Linked DNA regions of Homo sapiens. The protein of the gene in region 4 interacts with the protein of the main gene of each other region in a pairwise test. Each region holds a gene or a part of one and is shown on either strand. Other genes may lie near its edges.

What was found.
Region 1: the proteins of LHX8 (region 4) and NEDD9 interact in binary tests that used the Homo sapiens proteins (3 or more experiments, as listed by UniProt).
Region 2: the proteins of LHX8 (region 4) and TBC1D1 interact in binary tests that used the Homo sapiens proteins (3 or more experiments, as listed by UniProt).
Region 3: the proteins of LHX8 (region 4) and ABI2 interact in binary tests that used the Homo sapiens proteins (3 or more experiments, as listed by UniProt).

The regions. Positions count from the first base shown.
Region 1 is NC_000006.12:11,182,798-11,189,309, reverse strand, and holds the end of NEDD9 (enhancer of filamentation 1), read left to right. Parts: intron 1-1,002; coding exon 1,003-1,092; intron 1,093-3,638; coding exon 3,639-4,148; 3' UTR 4,149-6,012; downstream 6,013-6,512. UniProt on the Homo sapiens protein: Scaffolding protein which plays a central coordinating role for tyrosine-kinase-based signaling related to cell adhesion. As a focal adhesion protein, plays a role in embryonic fibroblast migration.
Region 2 is NC_000004.12:38,131,322-38,139,962, forward strand, and holds the end of TBC1D1 (TBC1 domain family member 1), read left to right. Parts: intron 1-1,762; coding exon 1,763-1,936; intron 1,937-5,813; coding exon 5,814-6,014; 3' UTR 6,015-7,852; downstream 7,853-8,641. UniProt on the Homo sapiens protein: May act as a GTPase-activating protein for Rab family protein(s). May play a role in the cell cycle and differentiation of various tissues.
Region 3 is NC_000002.12:203,372,365-203,381,005, forward strand, and holds part of ABI2 (abl interactor 2), read left to right. Parts: intron 1-3,567; exon of another isoform or gene 3,568-3,651; coding exon of another isoform or gene 3,652-3,768; intron 3,769-7,843; coding exon 7,844-8,020; intron 8,021-8,641. UniProt on the Homo sapiens protein: Regulator of actin cytoskeleton dynamics underlying cell motility and adhesion. Functions as a component of the WAVE complex, which activates actin nucleating machinery Arp2/3 to drive lamellipodia formation.
Region 4 is NC_000001.11:75,150,893-75,159,533, forward strand, and holds part of LHX8 (LIM/homeobox protein Lhx8), read left to right. Parts: intron 1-6,000; coding exon 6,001-6,184; intron 6,185-8,641. UniProt on the Homo sapiens protein: Transcription factor involved in differentiation of certain neurons and mesenchymal cells.

The DNA.
Region 1 (6,512 bases), on a different chromosome or scaffold from region 4:
GCTCCAAGTTGACCTGGGATTCCGACAGCTTTCCCTTCCACTTTGAGGGATTAAAACATTCTACTGGCTGGGCGCAGTGGCTCACGCCTGTAATCCCAGCACTTTGGGAGGCTGAAGCAGGTGGATCACAAGGTCAGGAGTTCAAGACCAGCCTGGCCAATATGGTGAAACCCCATCTCTACTAAAAGTACGAAAATTAGCCAGGCATGGTGATGCACGCCTGTAGTCCCAGCTACTTGGGAGGCCGAGGCAGAAGAATCACTTGAACCTGGGAGGCGGAGGTTGCAGTGAGCTAAGATCGTGCCACTGGACTCCAGCCTGGGCGACAGAGCGAGACTCTGTCTCAGAAAAAAAAAAAAAAATCTACCAAGATCCATTGTTTAGGACTAGGCTTACTATCTTATTCTGCCATTCTTTTAATTTGACTGAGAGTCACAGATTATACTGAGAACTACGTAACTATTATGCCAAATTCCCTCAAGCGCAAGAAAGTGTGGCAAGGAGAACTGAGCCCCACCTGATGCTGAGGAAGGAAGTGGAGAGAGAGAGGATGGAGGCATTGAACATTCATCTTACTGGTTGTCTGACCCTGCACAGTGGGAACTACTGCCTTGGAGCAGAAATCTATAGATGATTTGAGGGAACTAGAAGTGAGAGGTGGACCACATTTAGACCTGCATTTGGGGGTTTACAGGTTCACATATAATCTATGAGAAAAGAACCCAGAGACTATAAAAAGAACATTATATATGAGATTTGAAGGGAATCATGAGTAGCTCTCCGAAAATTTTAAGGTGCCCCAGAAAGCTGGCACCCTATATGGCAATGGGCTTTATTTTTCTGCCACCCCTGTCGTCTAGGGTTCACAGTGCCTCACTGGGCATTTGAGATGTTGCCAAGGCAGTGGAAAATAAAGAGTATTTACTCATCCGTCAATGAAATTGTTAGCATAAGTGAATCACAGTGATGACATAATATGTTCTTTATGTTGAAAATTAACAGGGTAAGGAGGAGTTTGAGAGGCAACAGAAAGAGCTATTGGAAAAAGAGAATATCATGAAACAGAACAAGATGCAGCTGGAACATCATCAGGTAAGTTCAATCAGAGCAAAAACTGCTTGGCATTGGAAAGATTTCCCACCTAGCACTAAGGAAAGGTATCACTTCAAGAGATTATGATTTTGATTCTTCCAGCTCACTGGCAGGAATCAGCTCCAAAGCACGGAATGGGGTTTAAAAGCAAAGAGAAGGTTTATGACCTTGTTAGTTCAACTGGGTGTACCTGGGTTCCATCTAAACGGCAATTTTTTTAAAGGCTAAACCTGCATATCTAACATATGAGGACTATTTGGGTTAAGGCATTTGGTCTCAAGAAACAAGACCCATTCAAGCTAGCCTAAGCAAGCAGGTTTATAGTAAAGCCACAGTAGGGGAATTCAGTAACAGAAAGTGAAGATAGAGCCAGGTCTGGGGAGAACTAGAACTGTAAATTATCTCTCCTTCTTGTAGTTCCTTTGCTTCTTTCTATCAGTCTACTTCACTCTCACCTATTTTCTGGTTTTCTCTAATTATCTACTCATTTGGCTCCCCTGTAACTTTGCAGAACCCATAAATGGCCACTCAGAACTTCTATAGATGGCTTTTCATCTCGGCTTCCTCTTCCGATGGTTAGCTCCCTTCTCTTGTTCATCAGATTCCCAAGAAAGAGTCTGATTGGGCCACGTTGATTGGGCCATTTCTCTTTCTCTCTCTCTCTCTCTCTTTCTGTCTCTACCTCGCTATTTGTCTCTCTTTCGCCAGCAACACAAGCCTATGGTTTGCCTGGCCTTGGTCCAATCTAAAGGTAGGAGAGCAGAATTCAATGTTTTCAACATATATCCAGGCCTATCTACTGAGGACTTTGGGCAGGGCATGTTCATTCAAAAGCTGGGTATGAGTAGGGGAGATAATGACGACTATTGCTAGAACAAGGGCATACAAATAAAGAGAGATGGATTGAGGATTTATTTACAAGCCTTTTAAGATGAAATGAAGTGAAATGGCATGTAATGACATGAAATGGCATGCTATATTTAGGAAATCTGAGTTCTAATCCTTTCTGGCCAACCAACTATGTCAAGTCAGGTAACCTCCCCGAGCTTCAGTTACTTCCCTATAAAATGGGAAAGTACCCCCCCCATCTAATGACATGATATATTGATGAACATATTTGCATAAAGCCTAAGATATATAAAATATAATCCATTATGATTAAATACCTTGGAATATCACCTTGTACCTATTTATGTTTGCCTTGGCATCTGGCAAGGTAAGACTGCAGGGCTTTGGGGAACTTGTAGAAACCATAGCAATCGCTAAGAAGAAAACAGATTCTAGAAAAGTAAAGCTGTTGAAGGCTGGGCACGGTGGCTCACACCTGTAATCCCAGCACTTTGGGAGGCCGAGACGGGCGGATCATGAGGTCAGGAGATCGAGACCATCCTGGCTAACACAATGAAACCCCGTCTCACTAAAAATACAAAAAATTAGCCAGGCATGGTGGCGGGCGCCTGTAGTCCCAGCTACTTGGGAGGCTGAGGCAGGAGAATGGTGTGAACCTGGGAGGCGGAGCTTGCAGTGAGCCAAGATCGTGCCACTGCACTCCAGCCTGGGTGACAGAGCAAGACTCTGTCTCAAAAAAAAAGAAAAGTAAAGTAAAGCTGGCTGTGCATCTCTCAGAGAAGCTGGGGAAGCTGGGTGAGGTGATCACTGCTCCAGCTCATCCCTACGTCCAGGTGGGAGATTAACTGAGTCTGAAGCTCAGGTCACAGATAGTCCTTATCTGCAGAAGAGAGGTCTCTCTTGAGTCTTAGTGGAATCCCTAGAAATTATTATAATTGCAATTTAAATAATACACCATTTGGTAGCAATGAGGAAAGAAGGAAGAAAGCCAGCACCTGATGCATCTGACTCTGGGTAAAACCCCCTTCTTTTAACAGCTCTGGGGGACTAAATATTATGATGCACAATTCCCATTCAGACTGCCTTAGAAACTTTTTTTCCTTAAGTGCTCATATATTTATATGCATTAATCTTCCTGTAGTGCTGGATCATAACATGTCTATCAATCTTGACAGAAAGAGTAGGATAAACAGAAAGGGGTCATGAATGGTCATTTCATCTGAGCATCCTGAGATAGTCGAGGCTTTCTCCGAGAAGGAGCAAACTGTCAGTGACTTACTTGACAAGGAGGTCACTACATTTGGTTTTCCCTTGCCACCCCTCAACATTAATAAACATTTACATAGAGCCTACTACATACCAAACTATTATAAGCATTTTGTAAACGTTAACTCATTTAACCTCCATAAAGGTGTAGGTAACAGGGCTGCGGTTTAAACACTATGCTACCTTCTAGCCAGAGGGTACAAGAGACCAGTAGTCCAATCATAGAAGGTCTGAGCTTGAGGATCATCTTTCCCAACGTCTACATTTTACAATTTAGGAAAGCAAGGCAGCTTGACCCAGGCTTTACAGCTCACATGCATCTGACAGTTACTAGCGACTAAAATCCCTGTCTTTTAACTCCAAGGCCTAGTGAATTTCCATTGCAACACACTCCCTTGCTCTAATGAGATCTGCTTTCGTCTTCCTTGCAGCTGAGCCAGTTCCAGCTGTTGGAACAAGAGATTACAAAGCCCGTGGAGAATGACATCTCGAAGTGGAAGCCCTCTCAGAGCCTACCCACCACAAACAGTGGCGTGAGTGCTCAGGATCGGCAGTTGCTGTGCTTCTACTATGACCAATGTGAGACCCATTTCATTTCCCTTCTCAACGCCATTGACGCACTCTTCAGTTGTGTCAGCTCAGCCCAGCCCCCGCGAATCTTCGTGGCACACAGCAAGTTTGTCATCCTCAGTGCACACAAACTGGTGTTCATTGGAGACACGCTGACACGGCAGGTGACTGCCCAGGACATTCGCAACAAAGTCATGAACTCCAGCAACCAGCTCTGCGAGCAGCTCAAGACCATAGTCATGGCAACCAAGATGGCCGCCCTCCATTACCCCAGCACCACGGCCCTGCAGGAAATGGTGCACCAAGTGACAGACCTTTCTAGAAATGCCCAGCTGTTCAAGCGCTCTTTGCTGGAGATGGCAACGTTCTGAGAAGAAAAAAAAGAGGAAGGGGACTGCGTTAACGGTTACTAAGGAAAACTGGAAATACTGTCTGGTTTTTGTAAATGTTATCTATTTTTGTAGATATTTTATATAAAAATGAAATATTTTAACATTTTATGGGTCAGTCAACTTTCAGAAATTCAGGGAGCTGGAGAGGGAAATCTTTTTTTTTCCCCCTGAGTGGTTCTTATGTATACATAGAAGTATCTGAGACATAAACTGTACAGAAAACTTGTCCACGTGCTTTTGTATGCCCATGTATTCATGTTTGTTTGTAGATGTTTGTCTGATGCATTTCATTAAAAAAAAAACCATGAATTACGAAGCACCTTAGTAAGCACCTTCTAATGCTGCATTTTTTTTGTTGTTGTTAAAAACATACCAGCTGGTTATAATATTGTTCTCCACGTCCTTGTGATGATTCTGAGCCTGGCACTCCCAAATCTGGGAAGCATAGTTTATTTGCAAGTGTTCACCTTCCAAATCATGAGGCATAGCATGACTTATTCTTGTTTGGAAAACTCTTTTCAAAACTGACCATCTTAAACACATGATGGCCAAGTGCCCAAAAGCCCTCTTGCGGAGCAAATTTCAGAATATATATGTGGATCCAAGCTCTGATAGTTCAGGTGCTGGAGGGAAGAGAGACCTGTGTGTTTAGAGGCCAGGACCACAGTTAGGATTGGGTTGTTTCAATACTGAGAGACAGCTACAATAAAAGGAGAGCAATTGCCTCCCTGGGGCTGTTCAATCTTCTGCATTTGTGAGTGGTTCAGTCATGAGGTTTTCCAAAAGATGTTTTTAGAGTTGTAAAAACCATATTTGCAGCAAAGATTTACAAAGGCGTATCAGACTATGATTGTTCACCAAAATAGGGGAATGGTTTGATCCGCCAGTTGCAAGTAGAGGCCTTTCTGACTCTTAATATTCACTTTGGTGCTACTACCCCCATTACCTGAGGGAAACTGGCCAGGTCCTTGATCATGGAACTATAGAGCTACCAGGACATATCCTGCTCTCTAAGGGAATTTATTGCTATCTTGCACCTTCTTTAAAACTCACATATGCAGACCTGACACTCAAGAGTGGCTAGCTACACAGAGTCCATCTAATTTTTGCAACTTCCTGTGGCCAGTGTGTATAACCCCTTCCACTATCTCACAGATAGTCACAGCGTCCATTCCATAGTCTGTCTCCTCACATCTGTTAGTATTGACACAGCACAGACACCACAAGCCATCAGGTTCTTCATGGGGCAGGTGAAATACTTCTACCCCATGGGTAAATGTATTCACATATTACCAAGAGAAGAAGCACATTATCTATGATCTTTTGGCCCAGTTCTTATTTAGCATTTTTATTCCAGCCTACTTGGAAACATGTTTTTATTTGCAATATATGCCTGACTGAATTAAGCTTGCTTGTTTTAAACAACCAAATCATTGGAACAGAAAAGGATTTAAAAAACAAGAATGCATGATCTCAGAGTGATTAAAAAAAAATCAGTGGAAATAAATGATCATAGAAGGTGCTTTTCAAAACAACTGCTATTATAATTCTCAAAGTCCTACTCTGCCAAAAGAAGATTAAAAGTCATACATTACATTACAAGGAAATGTTCATGTGGGAAGAGGGTTGCTGAAAATCAACAACGCTTGAAGTTAAAAAGTGTGTCTTTGTAGATTTCATTGTATAATGTGTATTTCTTAGGAGATGGCTGACTTGATTGATCTACGCTAAGTGGAGACATTTCACATTTTTAAAACCAAATGTTCAATCTGTATTACTCTTTGCCGTCTTGTATGTAGAGGCTATTTTTAAATCATTAAATTTTTAGATCTCTGTTTTCATAGCCACTGGGTTTTCTTTTTCATACTCCTCTGTCACAGAATTAAATATTGGCTTACTTTGGTACTCCTAATATAAAAAGTTAAATTATGATTATTTTAGCAATGCTATAGGTCTGGATTTTTTTAGGAAAATTGAGGGTTTGGTTTTCTCTGTATATGTGTCACTTCCAAGTGTATTTGCATTCAAAGAAAATTCTAGAATCTGTGAACATTATCAAATTCAAATATCTGGAACAAGACTTGTGTTCACCAAAAAACCCATACACTCAGTAACATATAGGATGATTTGTTTTCATAATATGGATGTTACCAGTCATGTGGTTTTTAGAATCAAAGAAAATTTTTCTATTTGTTTTGGAATAGTCATAAAGAAATAATTTAAAGCAAACTATATTTAATGAAAATAAGAGATTTGTAATCATGTAATTATCATTTTTAATGGTTGGCCCACTCTTTTATTCAGGTATCCCACTGAGATTTACAGACAAATTATTTAAATGTA
Region 2 (8,641 bases), on a different chromosome or scaffold from region 4:
TTATTCAGCACCATATTTATAATTATACATGAGTGCCAAACAATCTCAGTTTTAACATTTGTGGTTTTTACTGTTCAGACTATTCAGAAGTTCCATGACGTGGCATCCATTGATGATGGTTTTGCTGAGGTTGAAATGTGAGGGTTTTGTGGCAGGTGTGTGGAAGCAGATCCCTTAGCTAAGAGAGCGCCTGCTCAACCTGCCAGGCGTGTGCTGGGAACTTCCAGGAGTTGCCTCGTTTAATTCTCACAGCCATCCTGGGAGGTAGGCGCTGTCTGCCCCAGGTGGGAGGCCAGGAACTGTGGCTGAGAGAGGTTAAGTACCGAGCTCAAGTCATTCATAGAGTCGCCAGTGGAGCCGCAATTTTAAGGCTGACTCAAAGCCTCTGAGCCAGTTACCTCGGCTGTCAAATGGAGATAATAATCCCTGCTGACCTCACGGTCGCTCTGAAGGACAAAAGAGAATCAGTTCAATCCAGTAAACAATTCTCTCTCTCCCTCTTACTCCCCTCGCACACATGCACACACACCCCACAGATATAATGGATTTTAGTTTTTAGGCATCAAATGACTTTTGTGCCTTATTAATATTATCCACTGAATCAAAAACAGCAAGCTGAAAAATTCATCTCAAGGAAGAGAAAATAAGATTGTTGGGAATGGTGAGAAAGGAAACATGGTTTTTGAAAATTGATTCCAGGGAAGATAGGCTAGTTTGAATGCCAGTAGGGAGCCATCAGAAGAAGTAGTTTTACACTGATTTTTAACAATATTGGAGTTGCTTAAGGCAATGCAATAGAGAGGCAGTTTCTGCCCTTTTAAAGCCTGACTTCACTTTCTGAATGTGTGTTCTGATCTAGCAGGGTTTTTTTTTTTTTTCTTTTAAGATGGTCCCAGCTTGACTGCATTCTCAGATCCATCAGATAAACGTTAGGGCTTCACTGCTGTGCTGAGAGGCCCCAGCCCCTGGGGTTCTCTCATAGAAACAACTGGAAAGAAAGGAAATGCCTTGGGCAGCAGCAGCAGCAGCTGTCTTCTGATTCTGCTTTCCGCCCTGCCTTCCTTACCAAGAGAAAGTACAGACACGGACGGCTTGAGTCACTTAGGCACTTAGGAGTTGTTTTTCACACGTGTGGTGTTTTCGTCACCATTACTATTGTGGGAAAGAAGACAACTCAGGCATCGTTTCGTATTCACTCATCTGTGTGGGTGACATGTGGGTTTTGGCTCATTTCTGCATATTTGTGTGCAAAGGAGAGTTTTTTAGTAAACAGTCCCATTACTTAGCTGTTCTTGTAACTCTGAAAACCCAACTGAACTATAATTAAACTTTGACTTGGTGACTCTGCAAACAGGCTATGATTCTTTTGTTTCTTTTCTCCTTTTAACCCATAGTTGATGTATCTAACCTAACAGAATTTTCAGAGAAAAGAAGTGAAATAAGAACTAAAAATAAATTTTTATGTCTTTAAAAATGAGAGGTTTTTTTTTTTTTTTTGGCTTTTGGAAGGTGAGTATCAAAAACCTGTACTTAATGTTACCTTGGAATTATTTCTAGATGTTTCTTATATCCTTTTGTCCCAAGTAAAATTATTACCTTCTCAGTGCGTAGTTTTTCTTATTTATTACTTCTAGTACCAAGTGTAGAGCTAAGCGTAGAGGAGACGCTTCACAGGTGCGCATTGTCGTGATTGCAGACGCCTGCCTGTACTTGTGGGGTTTTTCTCAGTTTTAGTACGTGATGACTTTTCTTTCTATAACAGGTATTTGAAATGGACATCGCTAAACAGTTACAAGCTTATGAAGTTGAGTACCACGTCCTTCAAGAAGAACTTATCGATTCCTCTCCTCTCAGTGACAACCAAAGAATGGATAAATTAGAGAAAACCAACAGCAGCTTACGCAAACAGAACCTTGACCTCCTTGAACAGTTGCAGGTAGAGCATATTTATAAAGCAGCTTCCTGAATCACAAATATATGGTAGTTCATTAACTCACCAAAGGCAACAGCAGGCTGGGCTTTCCCATGACCAGAGGACCTTTCCCACCCTGATCTGTTTATAGTTGGGATCAAAGGTATCCCGGGAGAATGGGTCCTTTTTATTATGGAGCAGACAGATTGTCCTTTGCTAAGGTCAGGCAGTCCCAGAGCTTTCTGAGAGGCTGTTTCTGCACTTAACTCTTTTAGGGGACAGGCCCAGAGATGAACTTGGATTCAGGATGCCGTGGCCTGTTAGCTGAATGCCAGCCGTTGTCATTACTCAAAGAGAATCTAAGAGCTTTTAACTTCTATGAGCAAAACCAGCTAGGTCCACAGAGGGATGGTAAAGGAGGAAAGTAACACAGAAATAAATATAACAAACCAGAAGAGATGATAATTCTTTGTGAGTCCTTGGTGCATATACAAAGATTTGATTAATGAAGGTCTCAGTTCTCCCCTCTAGAAACTTCCATTTCAACACGGATATACTCAGGTGAGGACATACAGAAGAAAGACCAGTTGAGACTGTGCACGCAGGAGGGTGTGCAGAGCAAGCACTGAGGTGCAGCACGGAGACCAGAGCTGGCCAGGTCCAGCATCACCCCCACCCCCACATCACCCAGGCACACTGCCCAAAAGAACACCTAACTGCGGAGTGCAGCTCTTTTGTCAATCTGATGGCATGAAGCAACCATATGTTCTACTTTTTTCTACTTTTTTTAATGTCACAAGTGTGTAGCAGTGCTGTCCCTGTTAAGGAGTTGTTTTGAGGGTGTTTTTAAAAGTTGTTTTTGAGTGGCTGTGGATAAAAATACATATTTTTGCCGAAATTTTTATGGTGTTCCTGGGCTGTCCTGAGAATAAGTTCCATTCTGATCTAAGCCTCTGATTTTTCTTCATAGAAAGATGAGCTTTGCAGACACAAGCTTGGCAGCAAGGTGAGAAAGGCCAGCCTAGTGAGTCAAGCTATCTGAAATGCATTCCTCCCAGCGGGCATTCCATCCCAGCATACCCTATCAGATATGTGAAAGAGAGGAACCAAGACCGAATGCTATTCCTGCCCAGCCCTAATAACCACTCACATTCTGAAATTTAACTTCTTTTTTTCCCCTGAGATGTCCTAACTGAAAATATGCCTGTATACAATTTACCCTGGAAGTCTCAGCCATCACTCAAGGGAAGTCTCCAGAGGGTGAAGAGCCTGTCTGGCCTGTAGGGGTACACAGTGTAGGTGGTCATTTTAAATGGCTTCCAAGCCAATGATAGGTCCCTGAAATATAACATGGTGGAAACTTCTAATAAAGCTCACATTTGCATTGAAGTGTTTAGCTTGTTAAGATAGGCAGTTCTCAAATAAAAGGTTTGTTTTATTGGGTAAATGACCTTGTAGTTTTTTGGTGACAGAGCATAGAAAGTAATTTCATGCTGCTCCTGTGCTATTGTTTTTGTGAAGACAGGGAGCTGTGAAAAACTGCTTAGCTACCTACATTCCTCAATAAAGGCATCAGACAGTAATTGGTGATTACAGATGTTCTCCCTGGAATGGTCGTTCTCTTGACCAAGTAGTCCTACACTTCTGGAAGGATCATTCAGAACTGTGGTCTATGCCAACCCACCAGTAGTTCCTGAGTCCCTGCAGTGCTGAGTGCTGGGGGCCACCAAGTTGAGTAAGACACTGCAGCTCTCAAAGAGTTGGATCTAGGATTGTATTGTATCGATTTGTGGTGTTTGGATATAGTTTTTCCATGATCCCCTACGAAAATATGCCTCTCATATGTAAGAATCATGCCTCCTCCGTGTACACTTTTCAGACACTGACAAGGAAGGGTGTTCAATACAGTACTGAATTTTCATATAGCTTTTCTGGGGGGGCCAAAATACCAAAATCAACCCATTTCCTACCTTTATTCTGTCCATAAAATTGTTAGAAATATCAAAATCCCATTTCATTCCCTGTTAAATACATGTGAACGTTGTCTAGACGCTGGAGAGCAAATTCTACCACCTCTTTTGTTCAGCAGTACATCAGACGATTGCATAGACGTGCCAGATGGAACCAAATAATAATGCACATGGATTTGTCATAATCCGTACAAGTCATTGACGCCCACACTGAGCCAGGTGCTGTGGGAGACAGGACCATGTGTGAAAGAGAAGACATGCTTGCTTCTATAAAAGCATCGGTGTTATTGAGGAGACCTGACATTAATGCAGAATAGCAAATGACCATGCAAATTAATTCACTACTAACTAAGCTGCAGGTTGCACCTCGGAATGCAGAGGGGCTTCAAAGTGATGAGGGTAGGCCCTGAGCCAGGCCCTGACGATGGGTGGATTTTGAGGATCAGAGAGTACAGCTTAGAGAGATACCCCAAGTGGGACCACCCCTTGCCCAGTAGGCTGACAAACTAAGGCTCTTGGTCCCTTTTTCATATTTTGGGTGTTCTAGTGGCCCAGCCAGAGCTAGACTTCGAGTCATGAATTTTCTGGCACAAGTGTTGTCACATTCAAAAAAGTATTTTCTTTGTTTGAAAAATGAAAAATATATATATATGTGTGTGTGTATATATATGTGTGTGTGTGTGTATATATGTGTGTGTGTATATATACGTGTGTGTGTATATGTGTGTGTGTGTGTGTGTGTGTGTGTGTATATATGTGTATATATATACCATTTTTCCCACCTAAAATGGAGCATGGCAAATCTGGACTGGATTAGTGAGATAGACCAAGTCACAGAGCACTCCAGGATGCAGCTGTGAGCTGGGGAACAGGTCAGAAAGGCCTCAGGGACATCAGCATACATGTTGGAGTTTCTGCAGTTTTCTTAGGGAACCCTTTAATGTCACTAGAGCTAACACACTTGTCACCTGGGAAGCAAGCCTGCCAGAGCAAATTAGAGAGACGAGGGACAGTTGCTAGAAAGATACACCTGGAAGTTCTATTTAACTAGCATTAATTATGTGCTAGGTGCTGAGGATGTAGACTGAGTGAGATCCTCATTCCTCCTCTGTAGGGTGGAAGAGAGGATATTGCTTGTCTCCATGGCTCGTAGTGAACAGTCAGTGAGACCAGGCACATAAACCTCTTAGCAGAACACTTGGCCTTTCTAAGGACTCCATATGTGTTCCGGGGTAAATGCCTGTGTTTCTTGACGTAGTGATGTCTTGTTCCTCTAGACATCACTAACTTTACACAGTAGCTTTAGATGGCGTGGACGTGAATAAATGCAACTTAGGTTTTCTTGTTGGTTTCTTTTTGAGTATCATTGTGTTTGTAAAGAATTTCAGATTAGAGGATTGTTACCACGTGGGCCTTCAGGAGGAAACTGTTTTGAGTTTTTGTCAGCCCGAAATCGATTTGTGCGTTTAAGTATATGTGCTCATCAAAACAGGCCAGGCTCTGCTGCAGTAACAAACTTACAAGTCTCCGAGGCTTGGCACAACGGAAGTCTTTGTGTCACTGACGCCCACTTCAGCTTTGTGTTGCTGAAGCATTCTTTGGCCCTATCCAAGCTGTCCCTCTGGTGGTGGTGCCTGGGGGTTTGGGTTCCCTCTGTGTTGTGATCCACCATCTCAGCATCGGCTTCCACAGCAGCCATAGCAGGAGAAGAAAATGCTGGGGGCTCTCAGGGTGCTTTTAAGGGCCTGGCCACCGACCTGCAAGGGGTGCGAGTTGCCTTCCTGTGTGGCCAGAACTGATGATAAACTGTAGACTCATCCCTGCTGAAACTCGGCTCCAGAGTGCTCCCAAGGCTGGACAGCGTGTGGGCACTGGATCCCACCTGTGTTAGCACTGGCAATTGTATTCTCATTTCTTCTTTTATTCTCCAGGTGGCAAATGGTAGGATCCAAAGCCTTGAGGCCACCATTGAGAAGCTCCTGAGCAGTGAGAGCAAGCTGAAGCAGGCCATGCTTACCTTAGAACTGGAGCGGTCGGCCCTGCTGCAGACGGTGGAGGAGCTGCGGCGGCGGAGCGCAGAGCCCAGCGACCGGGAGCCTGAGTGCACGCAGCCCGAGCCCACGGGCGACTGACAGCTCTGCAGGAGAGATTGCAACACCATCCCACACTGTCCAGGCCTTAACTGAGAGGGACAGAAGACGCTGGAAGGAGAGAAGGAAGCGGGAAGTGTGCTTCTCAGGGAGGAAACCGGCTTGCCAGCAAGTAGATTCTTACGAACTCCAACTTGCAATTCAGGGGGCATGTCCCAGTGTTTTTTTTGTTGTTTTTAGATACTAAATCGTCCCTTCTCCAGTCCTGATTACTGTACACAGTAGCTTTAGATGGCGTGGACGTGAATAAATGCAACTTATGTTTTCTTGTTGGTTCCTTTTTGAGTGTCACTGTGTTTGTAAAGAGCATTCACAATACGGTGGAATTTCAAAAGCTGGAAGAGCTCGAGATCATGCCTCAGGCAAAGGCGTGGGTCCATCGTTCTTCCGAGAGGGTTTGTGTGGCGACTACACCCTCAGCGTCCCTGGCAAGGTGCAGTTGGCTCTCGCCCATTCTTGTTATGGAAACCTAAGATGATCATTGGGAAGATCAGTGATCTTGGGTCATTGATCCCTGGCTCAGAGGATAGCGGTTTCCATCATAAACCAAGATGATGAGTTCAGCCTTTATCCCTCGTGGTTCCACTAGATGTAACTTAAAGGAGTTAACATTTGAGGACTTTGTTCTACATCAGATTTTACTATTTGAATGTTTAAGATCACTTTATTGAATTTGAAGATCATCAAATTAAATAAAATGATTTATTTAATTTGGATATCCTGATCACTGTCAAGTGAAATGGATCTCTCTCTTTGGTATTTAAGGAAGTTTGTCTTTAAAAAAAAAATAGAGTGTTTTCATACATTTTTGCTTATCCCATAAGTACAGTTGATCAAAGTCATAGTAGGTAAATGCTTTATGGGACAGCTGACACCTTTTAGACCCTACCAGGTATTGCTAGCATGTGAGCTGCAGTTGTGGGGTCTGAGATATTTCTTTGTGGTAGTTTCATACCCATACTATAGAGTCATGTATTTATTTTTGCCTGTTGTGTGATGTAATGCAATCATGTTCCTTTGAGTCTCCATCCCTTGGAAATCTGACTTCTTGCAGAAGGAGTAGGCACATCAAGATATTCAGGGGTGCCCCAAGAGTCTGGGACTTTCAAAAAAAAAAGATCAGGCTGAAACTGCAGTCAGATTTATGACAGCTGACAGTTTTTCAGAGGTCGCACACAGTGACTCTCCTCTCTCAGGATGACGAGGACCTGTGCCTTCAACAAGCAAAATGCTGCTCACGGTTGTCCTGCTTGCAGCCAGTCACTGTGTAAAGCCTCTCTGATGTGCACTTAAGAGTGGGTTGCTTTCTCACAAAGATGGGGTTCTGTGCAGTCACAGGTCACTTCCTTGACAACACAATCATTTCTGATCTTTATCACTGTAACCACGTCTTCTATTCCATAGGAGTTTCTTTTGATTCTCTCAGTTGCGGGGGGCATCTCTTAATCCTGGGGTAAAAGGAGAGATTGCCATACTTAGACTCACTGTGAGTCTCCCCGGCCATTTCACGAGGAGACCACAGTGCTGCCACCAGTGCCTAAACAGGTGGCTGGCATTCGAGACTTCCTCCTGTTCCCTGGGTCAGAGGATAGCGGTTTCCATCATAAACCAAGATGATGAGTTCAGCCTTTATCCCTCGTGGTTCCGCTAGATGTAACTTATAGGAGTTAACATTTGAGGACTTTGTTCTGCATCAGATCTTACTATTTGAATGTTTACTGTTGGATTTTGGGCATCTTATTACTGTTACTCAAAAACATTGACTCTGCATCAAGAAAGAAACAAGAAAGCAATAAAACAAGAAATAATTCATGCTCACATTTTTATGGTGGTTTTTTTTTTTTTTTTAACTTTGGATTTTTGCTTTTCAGCCCAGGAGTAAAGGAATGCCTTATGAACACCTGTGGCCTACGTGTGGTCATGACCCAACCATCAGTGAGATTATTTGAGATATTGGTGTCTGCATCCAGTGTTGTTATCTGAGTGTTTATTACGTAAGTTGTAACACCTCTACACAGGGTGTGAGTTTAGCACTGATGAGACCAGCTCCATCATTGTATGTGGCAGTGAGTCCTGTTACGAGATTGGGTTGGGCAGAAAGGACTGTTGACATGAGCCTGTGGATGTAGGTTGGACAGTCTCAGCCTGTGACTGACTAGGCAAGGAGCGGAGAGGCAACTGTGTGAGGATTCTCAGAGCCAAATTTTTAAGCCATGTTTTGGGTTATATTTCCCCCAACACTCATTTGTGCACTTGGTGGTGTCAATCTTTAGATGCCATTTATGTCTCTTAAGACATTATGAGGCCTCAAGAAGTGTACTACTACCTGGAACAGGATGGGACTCTCTTCAGCTTGCACACTCGGTTCGGCTCCCTCTCAGGGGTGGCCTGTAGATAGAACAACAATGTCCATTTGGAGGTTTGTGTGTCTGGTTTGGTAAACAGGAGAAGAGTTGCTCCAAGTGCCATGGGATCCTGGATTTTGTTACAGAATTAGACCAAACTCAACTGTGTGAAGCGCTGGAGAAGTGAAGATTCAGAAGGTGTTTGAATCAGGCTAAGTCACCAGGTCGTCTTTCAGAAGCAAAGCACAAGGCCACTGCAGAAGT
Region 3 (8,641 bases), on a different chromosome or scaffold from region 4:
TCTTTTCCCCACCTTTCCCCCCTTTCTATTCCACAAAACCGCCATTGTCATCCCGGCCCGTTCTCAATGAGCTGTTGGGTACACCTCCCAGACGGGGTGGTGGCCGGGCAGAGGGGCTCCTCACATCCCAGTAGGGGCGGCCGGGCAGAGGCGCCCCTCATCTCCCAGACGGGGCGGCTGGCCGGGCGGGGGGCTGACCCCCCCACCTCCCTCCCGGACGGGGCGGGTGGCTGGGCGGGGGACTGACTCCCCCACCTCCCTCCCAGACGGGGCAGCTGGCCGGGCAGAGGGGCTCCTCACTTCCCAGACGGGGTGGCTGCCGGGCGTAGGGGCTCCTCACTTCTCAGACGGGGCGGCTGCCGGGCGGAGGGGCTCCTCACTTCTCAGACGGGGCGGTTGCCAGGCGGAGGGTCTCCTCACTTCTCAGATGGGGCGGCCGGGCAGAGACGCTCCTCACCTCCCAGACGGGGTCGCGGCTGGGCGCCCTCATATCCCAGACGGGGCGGCGGGGCAGAGGCGCTCCCCACATCTCAGGCGATGGGCGGCTGGGCAGAGACGCTCCTCACTTCCTAGACGGGATGGCGGCCAGGAAGAGGCGCTCCTCACTTTCCAGACTGGGCAGCCAGGCAGAGGGGCTCCTCACGTCCCAGACGATGGGCAGCCACGCAGAGACGCTCCTCACTTCCCAGATGGGGTGGCGGCCGGGCAGAGGCTGCAATCTCGGCACTTTGGGAGGCCAAGGCAGGCGGCTGGGAGGTGGAGGTTGTAGCGAGCCGAGATCACGCCACTGCACTCCAGCCTGGGCACCATTGAGCACTGAGTGAACCAGACTCTGTCTGCAATCCCGGCACCTCGGGAGGCCGAGGCTGGCGGATCACTCGCGGTTAGGAGCTGGAGACCAGCCCGGCCAACACAGCGAAACCCCGTCTCCACCAAAAAAGTACGAAAACCAGTCAGGCGTGGCGGCGCGCGCCTGTAATCGCAGGCACTCGGCAGGCTGAGGCAGGAGAATCAGGCAGGGAGGTTGCAGTGAGCCAAGATGGCAGCAGTACAGTCCAGCTTCTGCTCGGCATCAGAGGGAGACCGTGGAAAGAGAGGGAGAGGGAGACCATGGGCCGTGGGGAGAGGGAGAGGGAGAGGGAGCGGGAGAGGGAGAGGGAGACTAAACTAAAATTTTTCTAAGCGAGGCCCATCTTTTTTCTTTGCTAGTAAAATTAGTCAGTACTTATCCATGTTCAAGTTTGTCATGGCTTAGAAAAAAAGATTAAGCAAGGTCAAAAGGCAACATAAAGAACTTAAGAAAGTAGTGCTCTTCCCACCTTCCCAAGGGCTGAGTAGGACTTACTGGGCCAGGTGTTAAATTAGTTAGCAGGTAACAATTAAAGGAGCTGGAAAATAATTATCATAAAATAATATAAAATTGGAAGTAATTCTTCTCAAGAGCTAGGTATTGAAAGGCAGTGGCCTTAAGAACTCAACAAGTAGGGTAGCTTTTACTGTCTAAAAACTTTAGGCTGGGTGTGGTGGCTCATGCCTGTAGTCCCAGCACTTTGGGAGGCTGAGGCAGGCGGATCCCTTGAGGTCAGGAGTTTGAGACCAGCCTAGCCAACATGGCAAAATTCCATCTCTCCAAAAAATGCAAAAATTAGCCAGGTGTGGTGGTGCACACTTGTAGTCCCAGCTACTCAGGAGGCTGAGGCGGGAGTATCACTTGAGCCCAGGTGGTCGAGGCTGCAGTGAGCCATGTTCATGCCACTGGATTCAAGCATGGGCAACAGAGTGAGACACTGTCTCAACAACCCAAAACACAAAAACTTTATATAGATAGCCTTGCTTAAGAATTTCTAATTTTGGCCAGGCTCCGTGGCTCACGCCTGTAATCCCAGCACTTTGAGAGGCTAAGGGTGGCCGGATCACCTGAGGTCAGGAGTTTGAGACCAGCCTGGCCAACATAGTGAAACCCTGTCGCTACTAAAAATACAAAAATTAGCTGGGTGTGGTAGTGGGCACCTGTAATCCCAGCTACTCTGGAGGCTGAGGTAGGAGAATTGCTTGAACCTGGGAGCGGAGGTTGCAGTGAGCTGAGATCGTGCCACTGCATTCCAGCCTGGGTGGCAAAGCGAGACTCTGTCTCAAAAAAAAAAAAAAAAAAAAAGGAATTTCCAATTTTAATTAAGGAGATACACTGAAGGTTATCAATACGTAATTATGCATAGAAAGTAGACTTTTTATACTTCCCAATTAATTTCCTATGTAGTTTTTATATCACTTTATATAAAAAAACTGAAAATTACTCTGTTAGTAACTAATTTGTTTTATGAATGATACATAATTTGAAGCATAATTGTAATTTAAATGTTTATTTGAAACATTAGCTTACTAATAAAAAAAATTGAGACATATTTAAAAACACCCAATTTAGTTGGGTTAATCCACTGTAACTGTTTGATTGCAGATGTTTTCCCACACTGATGGGCAGCTAACTGAGGTAGTGCTATCCAGTACAGTCAACTTTCAATTATCTGTGGTAATGGGAAATGACAATGCATGGATAATCCTAAAACAAAATATTTTATACAGTACCTTCCTGTCATCTGCTGTGGCCTGAGCATGTGCTTGGGTTCATGAGGGAGATGTGGGAGTGGGGCTCAGGCTTGCAAAGGAGCTGGGAGTCAGTATGATTATCTCAAGGCCATAAGAGGTATCCTTAAGGAACCTGGGTTTGGCACTGTGTGGCTGAAGTGTCATGGGGAAAGCCTGCAGCATGCAAGATCAGCTTGGCAATATCAGTGAGAAGGATGGGGAAGCTAATTAATAAGGAACTGTGGGAGAATAGTTGTTTATTAAGTCCTATACAATTGCAGTGATATATCTTGGTGTGTTTTTTGGTTAATGGGATCTGTAGCAAACAATAATTATATTAATTGTGTATTTGAATTAGTTTTGGTCATCTTTGATTGCTAGCAGAACACATTTTTTACTTGCCACAGGTGAGTGCTGTTATTGAGGTCTCTTCTAAATAAGTAGGTTTATTGTCATATAACTAGTAACTTAAAAAACCCAGAATAAATTTGAAATACTTTTCTTACTTTTAAAATTCATCCTAAATATCAGTGTTGAACTTGTACTTCCAAAATTTAACTTAATGAAATTTAACATTGTAATGTCAAAGAATATCATGAGGGCAAATGCCATAATTACTGATACTGTGAATTTGATGTAGGAAAAATATAGTAGCCATATTTTATTTAAGAATATGTTACAGGAGCTTTCCTAAATTTCTTTTACAACTGACAATTGTCTACGAATTTATGAATGTTAAAGCTGCATGATAGATGTGAGGAGGGAGTGTTTATTATTCTATCTAATTTGAATATGCTTATTTTCTACAAGTGAAAGCTATAAAAAAATTGAAGCAGATGATTGCTGAAAACCTTAGAATCTTCTGGACCAACCTGAGAATCTTCTGCTTGTTTATGAAATAGATTTAGTGCTCTCTGTCAAATTATTCAAACTCCAAATAGAACCGTAGCCATTTTCTAAAGGCATGTTTTCTTCTGCCCACAGGCAATACTGCAGTTCAACCCCGTGTGGTAGTATGATGGCAAGAATGCAAATTATACCGTTGTTAGATTACCTTTATTATTATAGATGTTTTTTAAAAGTTATTTACTTAAAATATCTATACTTAGGCAAATTAGAGGCGTTGATCTTGAGTCGACTTTTGTGACCAAATTTGGAAACAATTGCAGTTTGAGATTGAATGAGGTAAGGGACCAGCTAATTAGTCCTTCCTCTATAGATCTTTGGTTCTCAACCAGGGAAGTTTTGCCCCCAAGGGGACATTTGGCAATGTTAGACATTTTTGGTTGTCACATCTCATGGTGGGGGAGTGCTACAGTTATCTACCTGGATGCTTTTCTATATTCTGCAATCCTCAAGACAGCAGCCTTCACCCCTGCCCACAACAAAGAATTATCAAGCCCAAAATGTCAATAGTGCCACTGTTGAGTTACCCTGCCCCTAGTGTTTCTAAGATGTAGGCATTCTTTGAAGTAGACAATTAAAAACATCATATAGCCAAACTAAATTATTTTGACTTTCTGTATACTTATGCTGTTTAAAAAACATGCCTTCAGTTTTTACTGAGATTTGATATAAAAAGCAACAACAAATATATTTTTAAAGAATTTAATCCTGGGAAACATTTCACTTTCCTGATGAATTGATATATTTCCTCGTAACTCATTATGTTTCTATTTTGCCTTCTCTCCCTGGAGGCTTAGTGCCAATTTTTTTGCTCTATTATAACAATGACCCTTTATTTTAGGCTTATTGTTATCTTTCTATTTACTGTATTGGTCTTCCCTTTTTTTTTTTTTTTTTTTACTGTTATGGTCTATGGGTTTGGGCTAAGTGTGTGTTTGTGTGTATATGAAGAGAACATGTGGGTAATATGTAAATGTCCCCAATCCCTAGACCAAGTCACATCTCTATAAGATCAAATGAACAGATTTCTAATTTATATTTTAATGCTTTTTTAAAGTCTCAATTTTTCAAACAAGAAATATGTGCTTGTTATAAAATATTACTGTGTGTTAGTGTAAATAATAAGTGGAAGATTACTTCTCCCTGTTCATTCTCTGGAGATTTATTAATATTTCTAGTATGTGCCAGGCATAGTGGCTCATGCCTATAATCCCAGCACTTTGGGAGACTGAGGCAGGAGCATTGTTTGAGGTCAGGAGTTCAAGACCATCCTGGGCAACACAGTGACATCCCATCTCTACAAAAAATAAAATTAGCTGGGCATGGTGGTACATGCCTGTAGTCCTAGCTACTCAGGAGGCTGAGGTAAGAGGATGCTTGAGCCTAGGAGTTCAAGACTACAGTATGCTATGATTGTCCCATTGCACTCCAGCCTCTGTGACAGAGTGAGAACCTGTTGCAAAAAAATGTATATTTATAGTATGCAGATGTGAAATAGAAGCTATAAGCTTGTAATTCTGTTATGGCTGCTCAGGTTTACACTCTTATAGTTTCATTTCTGAATAAGTTAAGTACATTTCTAAAAACTGAGGAGAATAAAAACAATGTCTTGAGGATTGTGTTATCTGATGAACCTTTTATTGATCTGACGAAGACCCATTTTATAAAAAAAGTGTCATATTTTATTTTTTGAAGCATACTTGATGGTATGAAATGGTATTTCTAGCCCATACTTTTAATGATTTAGAATGACTCACTAAACTTTATTCAAGGCCAGTACATTGGCTTACTCCTGTAATCCCAGCACTTTGGGAGGCCAAGGTGGGTGGATCACTTGAGCTTAGGAGTTCAAGACCTGCCTGGGCAACATGGAAAAACCCCAACTCTACAGACAGTAGAGAAATTAGGCCAGCATGGTGGAACACGCCTGTAGTCCCAGCTCCTTAGGAAGCTCAGGCGGGAGAATCATTTCAGCCTGAGAGGTCGAGGATGCAGTGAGCCATGATCGGGCCAGTCCACTCCAGCCTGGGCGACAGAGTGAGATACTGTCTCATAAAAATAAAATTTAATCCAAATGTGATTAATTTCCATTTCTCTAAAGTTAAAAATTAAGTGAATTCCAATATCATCACTAATATGCAAGCTTAACTTTTCTGTTACAGTTTTCCCAAGCAGTTGAAGAGGAAAGCTATTCTCATAATTAGCCTAACATGCGTAGAAAAGTTTAGAGATTATTTTTTTTCTTTTTCTTTTTCTTTTCTTTTCTTTTTTTTTTTTAAGATGGAGTCTCGCTCTGTTGCCCAGGCTGGAGTGCAGTGGCACAATCTCGGCTCATTGCAAGCTCTGCCTCCTGGGTTCACGCCATTCTCCTGCCTCAGCCCCCCAAGTAGCTGGGACTACAGGCACCCGCCACCATGCCCGGCTAATTTTTGTATTTTTAGTAGAGACGGGGTTTCACCGTGTTAGCCAGGATGGTCTCGATCTCCGGACTTTGTGATCCGCCCACCTTGGCCTCCCAAAGTGCTGGGATTATAGGCGTGAGCCACCATGCCTGGCTGAGATTGTTTTTTTCTTGAATACTTAAAATTGTAAGATTACTACCATGGTTAGTTTTTTATTTGATGTTCCATTTATACATTCGTTAGCTCTGGAACATATAGATCCTGTTGTTTTTAAGGTCTCTTGGTTGTAGAGAAATAAGAGGCTTTGAATTTGTTTCAGGCTTACCTCATACTTGAGGCAGTTTAGAAGGATAAATGATCAGTGTTCAGATTTCTTAAAGCAGTATTTTATAATGTCATGATGATTATCTTTTCACTGTTACTACCAGGTTCTTTTAGAAAGGGGAAATTGAAGTAGGACATTGAAGTGGGACTGGGGAGGAGTTAGCAAAAAATGTGTCTGTTGATTGCTGCTTGAGCCAGGAATTGGTGGTAAGAGATGTGAACCATTTTAGTGAAGTGATTTTTCAAACTCTTTTGACTGCGACACACAGGAAAAAATTTTTTTTACGTTGTATTCAGCACATAATTCATGTATATATTTATATATATAATAAACAGACTTTTCAAGAAACAGTATTTTACCTTACTATGTGTACATGCAGTCTGATGTTTCTGTTCTATTTGATTTGAAATAATTGCTGCTTACATACCACTAAATTGCAGCTTGCAGTTTAAAAAATTTTGCTTTAGTGTACTAATTACCTGTGTATGTGGAGAAATTCACCCTCTGTTAGCAAATAGAAGATTGTAATTACAATACATTCTTACTCGTATGTCTTATGTGAGCATTTAATAAATATAAATAAATTAATGAAATATTTTACAGGCATTTTGTCATGATAAAATATAAGCAGCTTTGCCCAAGCAACTTGGTCTTTTGGGGTCAAAAAATGGCTTTTTTGTTTTTTGACACAGGGTCTTGCTCTGTCACCCAGGCTAGAGTGCAGTGGTGCATTCATGGCTCACTGCAGCTTTGACCTCCTGGACTCAAGCAGTTCTCTTATTTCAGCCTCTCAGTTAGCTGGGATTACAGGCATGTGCTGTCATACCCAGCTACTTTTTGTAGAGACGGGGTTTCGCCATGTTGCCCAGGCTGGTCATGAACTCCTGGGATCAAGCAATCTGCCCACCTTGGCCTCCCAAAGTGCTTGGATTACGGGCCTGAGCCACTGTGCCTGGCTTTATTTTTAACATTATATTTCAGCCCTCTTTCTTTTTAAATAAAAAGATGTTTAAACATGAATAGAAATTATACTAATAGGTCATTAGAAATGTAACTAGATTAATTTCGGGGGCTTTCTTAATCACTATATTAGTCTAAATCTTAATGGAGAGGGAAAAATTAGCATGCTTTAACCCAGGGGTTGGCAAACCTTTTCTGTAAAGGAGCCAGCTAATATATACTTCAGTTTTTGTGGGCCATACCATCTCTGTTGTGGCTCATCTCTGCCATTACAGTGTAAAGCCTAGACAGATAAGCAAGTGAGCGGCATGGCTGTATTCCAATAAAACTTTACTTATGGAAAAGCAAATTTGAATTTTATATAATTTTCACGTGAAGGTTTTTTTTGGTTGTTCTTTTCTCCAAACATTAAAAAATGTAAACACCACTCTTAGCTTGTGGGCTGTAAAAATCAGATGATGGGCCAGATTTGGCCTGTGGGCCATGGTTTACCAGCCCTTGCTTTAACCTAAAAATGGAGAAAATCAGTAGTCCAGAAGAATAAAAATTTAGCAAGCATAGTTTAGAATATGAGTAGCAATATTAAATCTCTAGGCATATATATTTTGATTTTTGTGGATATTAGAACTATACATTTTTGTGTTGTTTTTTACATTATATTTTGCAGACAGTTGATATTCATAAAGAGAAAGTTGCAAGAAGAGAAATTGGTATTTTGACTACCAATAAAAACACTTCAAGGACACATAAGATTATTGCTCCAGCCAACCTTGAACGACCAGTTCGTTATATTAGAAAACCTATTGACTATACAATTCTAGATGATATTGGACATGGAGTAAAGGTAGGTATAATTTTTTTCAAGCTTTTAAAAGTAGTAACCCATAATGAAACCAACTCTTGAGAAAATTAAGCTTTTTATCTGTCTTTCTTTCCTAGAGGACAAAGTCTTGGCCCAGTTGTGGTTGTGAAGATTCCTTGCTACTATAACTGTTTTACCCTTTTTGCTTTTTCTTAGTGATGTATTCTCAAGTTTTAAACAGTCATCTTTGAATGAATTATATTTGCTTGGTTATGATAATACCTCCTATGGTTTGAGTAAATAAGTGTCGTGTAATCTTTCCAATTTTAATTTAATATGACTGATTAAAAAATCATTCATCATGTTATTATGAAAGTGTTTACCTTATCTCAAGTATTTATCAGCAGACTTTTGGCATTAGTTTTCAAAAACAAGATATATTAATAGACATGTACTTTGAATTTTTCTAAAATAATTTTATCCCAACATTTTGGGCAAGAATAGTGTTAGGTAAAAGTGATAGGTGAATTAATATTGCCACTGCTTTTGAGTGTGTAGCTATTACATATTTTGGCTGTCTTTTAAGATGTATTTGGGTGCCTAGAACATGCAAATTTCATTTAAATTGGTGTTTGAACTTAATGATTCAGAGCTTTAGCTGAG
Region 4 (8,641 bases):
TCTCAAACTCTTGACCTTGTGATCCGCCCGCCTCAGCCTTCCAAAGTGACGGGATTACAGGGGTGAGCCACCGTGCCTAGCCGGAAAATAATTTTAAATAACACCGGAAGTTCAAAAAATTTAAGGAGTGAAAGCAAGTAACCATAAAAGGCAAGAGGAAACTCAGGGAGGGGAAAGGCAAATGTCTTCATTGCACATATTTTATTTTGTTTCTTAATTTGGGTGGTTGATACATGGGTACTTATTCTTCTGTAAGCCTAAAGGTTTCATAATTAACAAATCACCTGTACGAAGAAGCAGATGGAAAAGACCTGATGATACTGCAGCTTCTCTAAAGACCTAGGGTTCACAGTGTTTTAATTGACTGCAAGGTAATGAGGCTGTCTTAGGAGACAAGTTCTACCACTTCAGCACTTTCAGATATCCAGATTATTGTGCTTATTTCAGAGTGCCAAATTTTAAGAAGGGACTAATAAGCAATCTGAAAAACATACTACCTCAAAGGCTACCAGGGTTGTGAAAGATTTAGATCATGCCATAATATTAAAGGCAGCAGGGATATTTATCTGGAGATAAGGCCAGGAGATGGTAAGAGAAAGAGTAATATCCAGAGTAGGTGTCTTTAAATATTTGTGAAAGGCTTCCCTGCAACGGAATGTAGAAAAAGGCACTGGTGTTCACTCATAATGAATTTTCTCATTATTGAAAGGCTACACAAATGGCACGGACTACCAAGGAAGGTAGTGAGTTTCCTCTGCCTGGGAGAACAGTTTTCTTTGGCAGGTAGTTCCGACTCCACGGGCTAAAAGTTCCTTCTAATTTAAGACTCTGTATATTCATAACAATGATAGCTTCAGGTAAGTCAGATGCATGACTTATATCATTTTGAAGTTGGAAGCAAAGAAGAAGGAGAGTTTTCTTAGAGCTTTTCATATTTGAAGGACTAAGGAACACAGGCAGACATCTGTCATGTAATTTCCAGGCATTTAGGTTACTAGTACTATGAGCAAGTTAACTTTGTCCTAAGCCCTACCATTTGGAGAATATATTTTGAATGTTGGCTTTCAATATGTTAAGGTTGAACATTAAATATTTTTGATATGATTCCAAAGGAAAGAGTACTAGCATGCTTATGTGTTTATTATTTGTATCTATACATAGGCTCACTATATGTTGTAGCCCTTCAGAGTATTTTATAAGAATTACTGTGATCTCAAATAGTAATCATACTTTCCCTCAGCCTCCTTCCTAGCATTGGGCATAATATTTTAGAAAGGTAAGAAAAAAGAGTTTTTATTACTAGACTTCTTCTAATATGCAAACTAGGTCACCCAAAGATTAGGAGGAAACTGGTGTGATACGTGGAGAGTTTCACGTTTCCTAGTTACAAATATGCTTAGTAAGACATTTGTAATAAAGCAGACTGTCCTTATACTGAAGTCAAAGAATAAAGATGAGTGATTTTTTTCCCCACACACTGCATCCAGATACAATCACTGTTCACATACTCTTTCAGATAAGTGAATTATGATTTTTATGTTGTGCAGAGACAGAGTAAACTATTGCTATTTCTTCCAATCAGTGTACTAGGAATACCCTTCCATATTAACATCATATTTATTGCCACATATATTGAGCATAGCACAATTTATTTAGCTTCCAATTTTTCACTATTATAAAATGCTGCCATGAGCAACATTGTATATCTACCTTGCGTGCTTGTTCAATAGTTTCCTCAGGATAAATTTCTGGAAGGGAGATTGTTGAGTCCAAAGATAAAACATGCATAGGGCCTTTATACAAACATGAAATCTCTTTGCCTTTGAGAAAGTTCATACAACTTTATTCTGCCAGGAGCTACGTACAAGAGTTCCTTTTCCCCAACTCAGAAGAATCCTGAATACTGTTACTCTTTTACATCCTTTACAATTTAATAGTTAGAAAAGAAAATCTCATTGATTTTATTTCTGTTTCTTATATTATCAATGAGCTTGAACAAATTAGTTTATTTTTTCATTTTTAAGACCGTATGTTTTTAGCTCACTCTTCTGTTGGGTTATTTTCTCTATATCTTACTGATATTTATTAATCCTATCTGTCATGTTAACCTTTCACGGTTCATCAATTTCCTTTTTATTTTTTCCACACAGAACATTTATATTTCTATGTGTTTAAATCTCCCAGTCTTTTGATAGTTTTGGCCTTTTTTTTTGTTTTGTTTTTCTTTTTTTGAGATGGAGTCTCACTCTGTCACCCAGGCTGGAGTGCAGTGGCACGATCTCAGCTCACTTCAACCTCCGCCTTCCGGACTCAAGCGATTCTCCTGCATCAGCCTTCTGAGTAGCTGGGACTACAGGTGCGTGATACCACACGCAGCTAATTTTTGTATTTTTTGGTAGAGACGGGGTTTCACCATATTGGCCAGGCTGGTCTCGACTCCTGACCTCGTGATCCACCCACCTCGGCCTCCCAAAGTGCTGGGATTACAGGAGTGAGCCATCACGCCTGGCCTTTTTGTTTTGTTTTGTTTTGTTTTTTGAGATGGAGTCTTGCTCTGTTGCCCAGGCTAGAGTGCAATGGTGCAGTCTCAGCTCACTGCAACCTCTGCCTCCTGGGCTCGAGTGATTCTCCTCCTCAGCCTCTCGAGCAGCTGGGACTACAGGCACCTGCCATCATGACTGGCTAATTTTTGTATTTTTAGTAGAGATGGGGTTTCACCATGTTGGCCAGGCTGGTCTTGAACTCCTGAACTTGTGATCTGCCACCTCGGCCTCCCAAAGTGCTGGGACTACAGGTGTGAGCCACCACGCCGGGTCTAGTTTTGGCCTTTCTTATGCTTCCCTATCTAGAGAGTATTTCAATGTTGCCTTTTGTTTTCTTAAACTTTTATTGTTTCAATTATTTACGCCTAAACTTTAATTTATCTGGCTTGGTTCATGGGAGATAGGGTTTTATCTATTTTTTTCTCTCTTTCAAATGATAAACTATCAGTTTTCCCTAAATCAGTGAAACATGCTTTCCCAATAAAATAAAATCCCATCTTTGTCATATACAAAATTATTATATTTGGCTTTTTGTCTGGGCTTTCTAAAGGTTTCATTCTCTGCATTAGTATTTTGCTTTTCCATTATATCTACATGGCCTGATTTTAGCTTAGTTTATGATTTAGAAGTCAAAAAATTTAAAGTAGTTACTCAGAAAATGTTAACTCTTGTTGGAGGTTTGCAAACAAGAAGGAGGAAATTTTGTCAGTGAGGAGAGTCAAAAGGACTTATACTTGATTCTGAAGCTGGGTAGCATTCATGCCAGAAGGAATTTCCTGATGTCTGGAATCTTAAACTATATTTTGCTCTACCAGTTAGTTACATGATACTTTGTTTTTGCAAACCTCCTTCTGCTTGATTACCTGTGGATGATCTTTCCAAGAAGCTGCTTAACAAGATAGTTATTCTGCTGTTTATATTATACCTTCTTCATGTTTATTTACAAAGTTTGAGTGTTTTTTTTTTTCAATCAAAAGATGGTGTTTCTTTTGTTTTACAACTGCATAGGTTCCATTCAATATATAACTTATTGGAGACAAAAAGATACTTTGAAGAAACTCTGGGAATCATAGTGCAACATGTTTTAGGTTATATGTAGTCCTCTGGCGTATGTGTCTTCTGGGTCCCATAAGGGAAAAAGGCCGGTGGCAGTGGTTCCCCCTTACACATTGGAGAATGTTTGAGTAATGTCATCCTATTTGGGTGAGACTAGTGTTAGTAGTGACATCTATTGTTCCAGAGCCTGTGGGCAGAACTGTGGAGTTTGGGGTGTGGTCTATAGGTATCTCTGAGTCTCACTAACACTCCAGAGAACAGGGATGTGGAGGAGGCTGTGACTTCCCACTTGTCTTACTGGTGGATACCTAAGTCTTGTCCCAGAAACATTCCTTAGCTGCTACTTTTCAGCCTCCTGCTCAAGGCTATATACCCCACTAGATTATTAATTTTTTATTCTTTTAGTTTTAATCACTCTTGAGAGTATACTTTGCCAACCTTCTATTTTTGAATGCCAGGGGCAGGGTGTAGTTCTGAAGTAAGGCCAGCTTTTTCTTATAAATTCTTTGCAGCTTCCTTTTATTTCACATTAATCAGCCCTGATTGCCTTGTGCCATCAAGGCCCTACCACCAGCCTTGAACAGACTTATGCCCCTGATGTTTTCCTGGCCTCATATCCCTGATCCCAAAATGTTCTCATGCTAAGTTTTTATCCCTTCGCCTCTCTTTCCTCTCATGACAGAATTGTTTGGAGTGATGGAAAAAAAGTGATACAGTATTTTAATGAAGAAACACTCTCTTTTTTTTTTTTTTTTTTTTTTGAGACGGAGTCTCGCTCTGTCGCCCAGCCTGGAGTGCAGTGGCATGATCTTGGCTCACTGCAAGCTCCACCTCCCAGGTTCACTCCATTCTCCTGCCTCAGCCTCCCAAGTAGCTGGGACTACAGGCACCCGCCACCATGCCTGGCTAATTTTTTGTATTTTTAGTAGAGATGGAGTTTCACTGTTTTAGCCAGGATGGTCTCGATCTCCTGACCTTGTGATTCGCCCGCCTTGGCCTCCCAAAGTGCTGGGATTACAGGAGTGAGCCACTGCGCCCGGCCCATGAAGAAACACTCTCTATGGTCAAGTTTTATCACCTGTCAGGGAATTCAAACACAGGCATATTAGCTACTGGAAGCATTCTGGGCAGCCTAGACTTACTTGCCCTGACCTGGATGTAAAGCTCCACTTGCCCTGAATTTGCTTCTTTTATTTCTGCAGTAGAGTGGACAGCAGGGTGGTTAGCACTTTACATTTTGTGAACTCTCATCAGTGGATGTGTTTGTATTTAATTCTACTTAAATATTATGAGTTTTTTTCTTATTAAAGACCTGACCTTAACATGCTTCTTAGGGAATAGCCTATGTATTCACCAAGAGAAATTGAACTCAGCAGGTTAAAATCTGACTGGAATAACTGAATCAAGAGGTTTGTAGAAAGCTTTAAGTTCTCAGTAGGGATTTTAGTCATTTGAACAAGGATTTGAAATAAGTCCAGCAGGTGCCTAAGAATACATTTAGTAGTCTTTTTTTTTTTTTTTTTAAGTTCTGATTAAAAGAGCTTTTTCTGCTTTTCCTTTTGTCCTAAATACCAGTAGTAAAACCAAGGAGATTTCTCTGGAATTCTTGAGGGCCCTTCCCCACCTTTTCTGGGGAAGATGCTGTTTTAGTATAGAATTGGCTTTTATTTTTATTTTTAAAAAATCTAATGGAGTTTTTGGGGTACTTTTGTTTGGGCTTTGTTGTTGTTGTTGTTGTTGTTGTTTTGTTTTGTTTTGTTTTGTTTTTGAGACAGAGTCTTGCTATGTCGCCCAGGCTGGAGTGCAGTGGTGCAATCTGAGCTCACTGCAACCTCTGCCTCCTGGGCTCAAGTGATTCTCCTGCCTCAGCCATCCGAGTAGCTAGGATTATAGGTACCAACCACCACGGCCAGCTAGTTTTTGTATTTTTAGTAGAGACGGGGTTTTACCATGTTGGCCAGGCTGGTATTGAACCCCTCACCTCAGGTGATCTGCCTGCCTCAGCCTCCCAAAGTGCTGGAATTACAGACATGAGCCACAGCACCCAGTCAAATCCAATAGAGTTTAATAATTGCATTCAAGGGGTAACCTTAACGTTTGACCAACTCAAATTCAACAAACCAAAATCCCTTAAGCAATTGGTCCCCTTTCCTACTTAAATAGAATTGGCTTTTAGGTAAATCACCAGAGAGCTATCAACTGAGCAAGAAAAATGACCACTGTTATTTGGACTAAAATGTTTCTTTTCTGTCTATAGAACTTTTATAAAAGCTGAGTTACATTTATGCGGTGCTTGTGTGGTAGTGTGATTGAGGTTGCATTCATTTTTTAACTGAGTTGATAATGTGCTCAGAAGCTGGTGTGTAACCTACCTACTTCTGTTGCTTTTCTCCCTGCTCAGGTGTGGTTTCAGAATTGTAGAGCACGCCACAAGAAACACGTCAGTCCTAATCACTCATCCTCCACCCCAGTCACAGCAGTCCCACCCTCCAGGCTGTCTCCACCCATGTTAGAAGAAATGGCTTATTCTGCCTACGTGCCCCAAGATGGAACGATGTTAACTGCGCTGCATAGTTATATGGATGGTAGGTATCCCAACATTTAACAGCTGTCTCCCAGGCAATCAGCAACTGGTAACTTCTAATATTAGATTATTGATACAATTCACATTTTGAAATATTACCTCAGTAGTAGCTGAAAAATATTGTGGGGGGTGCAGTAGAGAGCAAAATTATCCAAACATTTTTATTTCTGTGATTACATTTTAAGGAAGAAGTTTAATACTCACTTTGCAGCTAAGATGCAAATATTAATAATGACTCAATGCTTGATCTTTACTTAGAAATTTTTTGTTTGTTTTTACCGGTAAATATTTAAATACTTTATTTCCTGTGATCAGAGCAAGTGTTCACTCAGATCTTTAGATGGGAGTTTAATAAGTTTTGTTAAAGAGTTGTTTTTTATAGAAGAAAATCATACATTTAGAAGAGTGCATACGTAATAACTATTCAGCTTGATGAATTAATAAAATGAATGTATCCATATAGATATTGCCCAAAGTAGCAGATATAATTAGCATTTCAGAAGCCTCTCTTATGTCTCCTTCCAATTATTATCCTTTTCTCCCAAAGTAACATGGCACTGATTTCTAAAACCACCCTTTAGTTTTGCCCTTTTTGAACCACACAGAATGTATTTTGTGTCTCACTTCTTTCAATTACATTGTGAGATTCACCTATATTATTGTGAGAATCTGTTATTTGTTTTCATTGTTATATAGAAATCCACTGTAGGAATATACCACAATTTATCCATTTCCTGGTTAATAGATATTTGTGTTTTTTCCAGTTTGTGCTTTTATGAATATGCTGCTATGGACTTTATTGTACATGCTTTTTGTGCACATTAATTCACATTTCTACTAGATATGTACCTGGGAGTGGGACATAAGGTCATGGGCTACACATATGCTCAACTTCAGTCATTCTGACAGATAGTTTTTCACAGTGGTTGAACCAGTTTACACCTTGACCAGCAGCAAGGTTCAAGGTGCTTCACATCCTCACCAACACTTGGTATGGTGTAACTTCCTGATATTAGCAAATTTGATGATTGTGCAGTGCAATCTTATTTTAATTTGCCTTTCCCTGATGACTGAGCATTTTTTCATCAGGTATTTGTATATTCTCTTTTGTGAAGAGCTGTACAAGTCTTTTTGTCTTTTGGCCTACTGGCTTGTCTTTATTATTTATTTAAATGGATTTGCTTAATTTCTTCATGTAATCTGCATATAAAGCTTTTTGATAATTGTATGTGCTTAGAATATTTTCTCCTACTTAGTTGCTTGGCTTTTTCTACTCTCTTAATGGAATGTTTCATTGAGCACAAGTTCCTAATTTTAATGTAGTTTATTTCATCATTTTTCCTTCATGAGCCATGCTTTTTTTGGTGACATGTGCAAGAAATTGTTTATACTCAAAGATAATGAAGATATATCTTCTATGATATCATCTAGAAACTTTGTTTTACCTTTGCTGTGTAGATTTACAATTCATTTGGAACTGAATTTTGTGTGTGGTGTGAGGTAGAAAGTGAAGCTTTTTTGTTATGTTGATGAAAATAGAAAATGTCCAGCTTCTCTGTAGAGACATATTTGCCATAAATCAAATGTCCGTATGTTGTGTCAATTTCTGTACCTTCTGTTCTATTTTATTGGTCTATTTATTTTTGTGTTGCTACTTAATCATTCTAATCATGGTAGGTCTATAATTTTTAATATATGATAATGTGTTTCTATTTTGTTGTTATTCAAGTTTGTATTGCCCATTCTTGGCCCTTTATGTTTTCATAAAATTTACCTACTTGTCTATTTCTACCCCAAAAGGGAAAACAATTAAGATTTTGATACAATCTATTACAGCAAATATATTGATCAGTTTTAGGAAATTGCCATCTTAACAGTATTTTCTTCCATACCATGAACTTTAGCATGTCTTTCCATTTGTTTAGATCATCTTTAAATCATCTCATGATTTAGACTTTTCTGTTTAGTAATCTTGCACATCTTCTGTTAAGTTTATCTCTAAGTATTTCTTTTGATTCAGTTGTAAGTGGTATTTTCTCTATAAGTAGAAATCTGGATTGGTAGTTATTTTCTTTCAGCACTTTGAAGATATGATTACCTTGTCTTCTGATTTTCATTGTTTGTTTTGCATATGGATAGCTAATTAACCTGGCCCCATTTATTGGTAAAGTCAGCTATTGACCTTCTTGCTCCTTCGAAAATAAACGTCTTTTTTCCTCAACTTTTTTCTTTGTGTTTGTCTTGAAAAAGTTTTACCATACTGTGCCTGGGTGTGCTTCTTGAATATGTAGTTTGATGTCTTTCATTATGGAAAATTCTCAGCTTTTGCCTCCTCAAATATTGTTTTTGCTCCTATGAAAAAATTTTCTTGTTTTCTTCTGAACTATTTTTCTAGTTCACTAATGCTCTCTATATCTAATATCCTGTAAAAAAATCATCCACCGACTTCTTAATTTAT